2 separate regions of the Homo sapiens genome follow, and region 1 is linked to region 2. The links come from fine-mapping of genetic effects on gene expression. A gene starts in region 2. The other region holds a variant in brackets. All regions are shown on one strand. Distances are from middle to middle.

Region 1 (2,903 bases), 81 kb after region 2:
GGGATACCTACAGGATGCCAGGCACTGTTCTTGACAAAATCTGCTGCCATCTTGGCGTTCACATCCCAGAGCAGTGTTGTTCAGTAGAAACATAACACAATCTACATACGTAATTTCTAGCATCCACATTAAAAAATGTAAAAAGAAGGCCGGGCGCGGTGGATCACGCCTGAAATCCCAGCACTTTGGGAGGCTGAGGCGGGTGGATCACGAGGTCAGGAGATTGAGACCATTCTGGCTAACATGGTGAAACCCCGTCTCTACTAAAAATACAAAAAATTAGCCGGGCGTGGTGGTGGGCACCTGTAGTCCCAGCTACTCAGGAGGCTGAGGCAGGAGAACAGTGTGAACCTGGGAGGCGGAGCTTGCAGTGAGCCGAGATCGTGCCACTGCACTCCAGCCTGGGGCACAGAGCGTGAGACTCCGTCTCAAAAAAATAAAAAAATTAAAAGAAGCAAGTGGAGCCACACATGGTGGCTCAAGCCTGTGAGCCCGGCACTTTGGAGGCCAAGGCAGGTGGATCACTTGAGGTCAGGAGCTTGAGACCAGCCTGGCCAACATGGTGAAATCCCATCTCTACTAAAAATACAAAAATTAGCTGGGCGTGGTGGCGGGCACCTGTAATCCCAGCTACTCGGGAGGCTGAGGCAGGAAAATTGCTTGAACCCAGGAGGCGGAGGTTGCAGTGAGCCGAGATCGCTCCATTGCACCCAAGCCTGGGCAACAGAGCGACACTCTGTCTCAAAAAAAAGAGAAGCAAGTGGAATTAATTTCACCACATATATTTAACTCATTATATCCAGAATATTACAATTTCGGTAATACATATGCAGTTATTCTTTCTATTTTTTAATTTTTGTAGAGACAGGATCTTGCTATGTTACCCAGGCTGGTCTTTTTTTCGAGACTGAGTCTCGCTCTGTTGCCCAAGCTAGAGTGCAGTGGCGTGATCTTGGCTCACTGCAACCTCTGCCTCCCGGGTTCAAGCAATTCTCCTGCCTCAGCCTCCCAAGTAGTTGGGATTATAGGCGCCTGCCACCGCGCCTGGCTAATTTTTGTATTTTTAATAGAGCTGGGGTTTCACCATCTTGGCCAGGCTGGTCT[T/C]GAACTCCTGACCTCAGGTGATCCGTTCGCCTCGGCCTCCCAAAGTGCTGGGATTACAGGTGTGAGCCGCCATGCTCATCCTTTTTTTTTTTTTTTTTTTGAGACAGAATCTCACTTTGTTGCCCAGGCTGGAGTGCAGTAAGCAGGATCTCTGCTCACTGCACCCTCCACCTCCTGGGTTCAAGCTTCAAGCGGTTCTTTTGCTTCAGCCTCCTGAGTAGTTAAGACTACAGGCGTGTGCCACCACACCCAGCTAATTTTTTTTTTTTTTTTTTTTTTTTTTTGAGACGAAGTTTCACTCTTGTTGCCCAGGCTGGAGTGCAGTGGCAAGATCTCGGCTCACTGCAACCTCTGCCTCTCGAGTTCAAGTGATTCTCCTGCCTAAGCCTCCCAAGTAGCTGGGATTACAGGCATGTGCCACCATGCCTGGCTTAATTTTTTGTATTTTTATTAGAGAAGAAGTTTCACCACGTTGGCCAGGCTGGTCTTGAACTCCTGACCTCAGATGGTCCACCCGCCTTGGCCTCCCAAAGTGTTGGAATTACAGGCGTGAGCCACTGCGCCTGGCCTAATTTTTGTATTTTTAGTAGAGACGGGGTTTCACCATGTTGGCCAAGTTGGTCTTGAACTCCTGACCTCAAGTGATCCACCTGCCTTGGCCTCCCAAAGCGCTGGGATTACGGGTGTGAGCCACCGCACCCAGCTGCCCAGGTTGGTCTTGAACTCCTGGGCTCAAGCCATCCCCCTGCCTTGGACTCCCAAAGTGCTGGGATTACAGGTGTGAGCCACTGTGCCTGGCCAATATGCAGTTACCAATGAGATATTTTGGTTTTTGTTTCATACTCTTTGAAATCTAGTGTATACTTCACACTTATATCACATTTCAGTTTAGACAGGTTGTGTGCAAGGGCTCAGCAGTCACATGTAACTAGTAGCTATGGGACTAGACAGCACAACTTTAGACAGCCCTTAAGTACCAGGGCTGTCTAAAGAGCCCTGGCACCAGAAGAGGTTCTGCTTGAAAGATACATGATCCTGGCCCTAGGGCTTCCTAGCCTGGCGGGATCCACGGGGAGGATCCATGATCAGGGAGGCCTTGTTGCACTTAGGGAGAAAAGTCATTGTTCGTTCAGAGGGCTCAAGACTAAATGTATACTCAGTTTATTCAGTTAAGGAAATCGAAGGGAAAAGATGGTGAATCCAGGAAGGCTTGCTGGAGGTGGTACCTTAGAGCTGTGAAACTCTTCATTCATGGGGAAGAGGAAGAATGGAGCTCAGGTTTGGGTGGGGGGTGCTTCAGGTCCCCCAGGGTTTTTCCTGAGTATATAGGTGGTGATATGCCAGAGGGGGTTGTGGGGGCAAGATGCAGGGTCGGTGGGAGGGCAGTCAGGTGCCCTGACAATGGTGCTTAGTCATCACCCCCAACTCCGTAGTGCCACTCCACGGGCAGTCCCCACTAGTGACGGGTGAACGTGTGGCCACCAGCATGCGGACGGTAGGCAAGCTCCCGCGGCATCGGCCCCTGAGCCGCACTCAGTCCTCACCGCTGCCGCAGAGTCCCCAGGCCCTGCAGCAGCTGGTCATGCAACAACAGCACCAGCAGTTCCTGGAGAAGCAGAAGCAGCAGCAGCTACAGCTGGGCAAGGTGAGCCTGGAAAGGTGAATGGCCTGGGGCTGTGGTGGGGGCAGGACACAGGAGAGTACCAGGCTGGCAGAAAAGTCCTCCTTTCAGGCCAGACACGGTGGCTCGCGCCTGATTGGGAGGCCGAGGTGGGCAGATCGCCTGAGGTCAGGAGTTC
Region 2 (2,903 bases):
AGCAGCAGCCGCACACAGTCAAACTGGGCTCGGGCACAGGCCTCATGCAAGGCAGCGCGACCCCCGACACGGGCATCCAGCTCAGCTCCCTGCCGGATCAGGTGTCGAGCACAGTCTGTGTAGCCTCGGGCTGTAGCGATGGCGAGGGGTGCCGTCTGCTTGGTCTTGGGGGTCAGCACCCAGAACCCTAGGGAGAGCAAATAGTTTTGGGAGGTGGTGTATAAGACAGGGCAGGGCAGGGAGTGGGGATGCTGGTTCCAGCTGACAGCTGACACTGGCCTTCCCTCTGCATGGTTTGCTGAGCACAAACACTGCCAGGCTGTACCTGTGGAAGGGGGCTTATTCAAGTCCTGAAGTGGAAGAATAAATTGGAACAGCCTTTTAATACAGCTTATCAATCTGTAACAAAACATAGTATGTGTCATAAAAAAATTAATTGCTGTATAAAACCACAGGGGCCAACTAAGTAGAGTGACTCCCATTAAGGAAATCTCAGCGTCTTTGAATGGCTAATAGTGTCAAAGGCTTGTTCACCTTGGGGCCTGGGGTGGTGGCTCACACCTGTAATCCTAGCACTTTGGGAGGCCAAGGCGGGATGATCACTTGACCTCAGGAGTTCGAGATGAGCCTGGGCAACATAGTGAGACCTTGTCTCTTTTTTTTTTTTTTTTAGGCAGGGTCTCGCTCTGTCCCCCAGGCTGGAATGCAGTGGCGCTATCTTGGCTCACTGCAAGCTCCGCCTCCCGGGTTTAAGTGATTCTTCTGCCTCAGCTGCTGAGTAGCTGGGATTACAGGTGCGCACCACCATGCCCGGCTAATTTTTCTATTTTTAGTAGAGATGGGGTTTTACCATGTTGGTCAGGCTGGTCTCAAACTTCTGACTTCGTGATCCGCCTGCCTTGGCCTCCCAAAGTGCTGGGATTACAGGCGTGAGCCACTGTGCCCGGTCAACTTTTAATTCTTAAAAGACATACAGACTGCTAACCCTGCCTCATCTCTGTTTAGGAGGGAGCTAGGATAGGTGGTGGAAAGGGCTGCTATAGTCTGTGGTCTGCAGGGAAGGAGGGGCCTAGACTCTCCCCCTTCCCCACCCACTCCCCTTCTTTCTCCCTCCTCTTCTGCCCTCTTCTGGTGCCCCCTACCCTGTTCAGCCGACCAGGCCAGCTGGTTGCTCACAGTCTCCACAATCATGTTGGCGGCCTCTTCATCTTGGAACAGGGCTTGGACCTGCTGCAGGTTGCCGGAGAAGAGGGCTTGGTGGACAGCTGGGTCTCGGCAGGAACGGTGAGGCCTAGTGAGTCGGGCCCGGGGACTTGACGGGCACCTGCGGCTCCGGCACTGCTGGGCAGCCGCCCGCCGCCGGTCCTCCCATTCCAGCCACTCCTGCTGCAGGCGGAGAGAGCGCAGCATGGAGGAGGTGAAGGGGAAGGTCTCTCTTGCCATGGATGGGGCCCAGGGGTTTGGGCAGTGGCACCTGGGCAGAGCCAGGTTCCCTCGACCCGACTACCTCCCTTGCTCTGAGGAGCCACCCTGCCCCCGCCACCGTGAGCCAGAGAAAGCAGCAGCTGAGGCTATAAATAGGTCCTTTGCTGCTCTGGTAAACATGGTTTGCTCAGAGTCATGATCCTGGTGCTGAGAAGCTGCTGGCCCAACCCCCAGCCCAGGGTGAGGGCCAGCCCCTGCCCCTGCCGATACCCTTTGGTTGGTCAGCAGGCCCTCAGCTGAGGCCACCCCCGAACCCCAGCATCTGCATCCACCTTCATCTCTAGAGCGAGCATCTTGGGTTGGCAAGGTCCAGGGTGCGCAAAAAGGTCAGTCATGGAGATGGGCAGGGCTGGGAGGAAGACAAGGTGCCTCCAGCCTCTCTGATGTTGGCTGGAGGGCAGGAGCCACCATTGGCCCACGTGGAGGAGAGAGGGCTGACCTCAGCACAGGAGGTAAGGGGAGGTCAAGGCAGAGTTACTGAGAAGGTGAGCAGCTCTTCCCAGCATCTGCAGTAACAGCAATAACTCTGTACATATGCACAGAGTTTCACGGTGTTTAAATCACATTCATATCCACCTTCACCCAGGGGATCATACTTCCCAGCCCACCCAATAATTAGTAAACTTGGTTTGGACAATAAATGAAATTATCACAGTTGAATGCCCCTGAGATGGGTGGTCTTATCTCTGTTTTACAGATGAGGAATTTAAGGCTTAACAAAGTAATCTACTGGCTCAAGGTCACAGTTTGTGAGAGGCAGAGCCAGGACCCCACATAGATGGTGTGCTTTGGGCCAAGAATGGTGGCTCATGCCTGTAATCCTAGCACTTTGGGAGGCCAAGACAGGAGGATTGCTTGAGCCTAGGAGTTTGAGACAATCCTGGGCAACACAGTGAGACCTATATCTTTTTTTTTTTTTTTTTTTTTTTTGAGACAGAGTCTCACCCTGTCTCCCATGCTGGAGTGCAATGGCACGATCTTGGCTCACTGCAACCTCCGCCTCCCGGGCTCAAACGATTCTCTTGCCTCAGCCTCCTGAGTAGCTGGGATTATAGGCACCCGCCACCATGCCCAGCTAAATTTTGTATTTTTAGTAGAGATTTAATTTAGGGTTTCACCATGTTGGCCAGGCTGGTCTCGAACTCCTGACCTCGTGGTCTGCCCGCCTCGGCCTCCCAAAGTGCTAGGATTATAGGCGTGAGCCACCACCCCCTGCCTCTCCATCTCTTAAAAAAAGAAGAAAAAAAAAAAAAGATGGTACACTTTTTGCCTTCAGCTGCTGCAGCCACCTGGCAGCCTCCCCCATTCTCCAAGCAGGACAGACTAGTCTGTAGAAACTGCCTTCAATCATCCTTTTTTTTTTTTTCTCATGGTGTCACCCAGTCTGGAGTGCAGTGGGGTGATCTCGGCTCACTGAA

Direction of the effects. Alleles are on the strand shown, and positions count from the first base shown. SD is a standard deviation of normalised expression in the study named.
As copies of T replace C in region 1, the expression in cerebellum of the gene that starts at base 1,529 in region 2 goes up (small effect, 0.30 SD a copy in GTEx).

Evidence for each region. PIP is the estimated chance that this variant, and not a neighbour inherited with it, causes the effect. A credible set is the group of variants that fine-mapping cannot tell apart.
Region 1: its variant is the best candidate, but not a certain one, in a credible set for the expression of ASB16 in cerebellum (GTEx, PIP 0.52).

What each region holds. Positions count from the first base shown.
Region 1 is chr17:44,088,233-44,091,135 of GRCh38, reverse strand. It overlaps HDAC5 (histone deacetylase 5), which reads left to right. Exons shown (of 27, transcript NM_005474.5): 12 at 2,538-2,749. Among named protein-coding and RNA genes, the nearest start is that of G6PC3, 19 kb to the right of the region's middle. The variant T/C (reference allele first, on the strand shown) is at 1,105.
Region 2 is chr17:44,169,330-44,172,232 of GRCh38, reverse strand. It overlaps ASB16 (ankyrin repeat and SOCS box containing 16), which reads right to left and starts at 1,529. Exons shown (of 5, transcript NM_080863.5): 1 at 1,143-1,529; 2 at 1-187. The coding sequence starts at 1,443.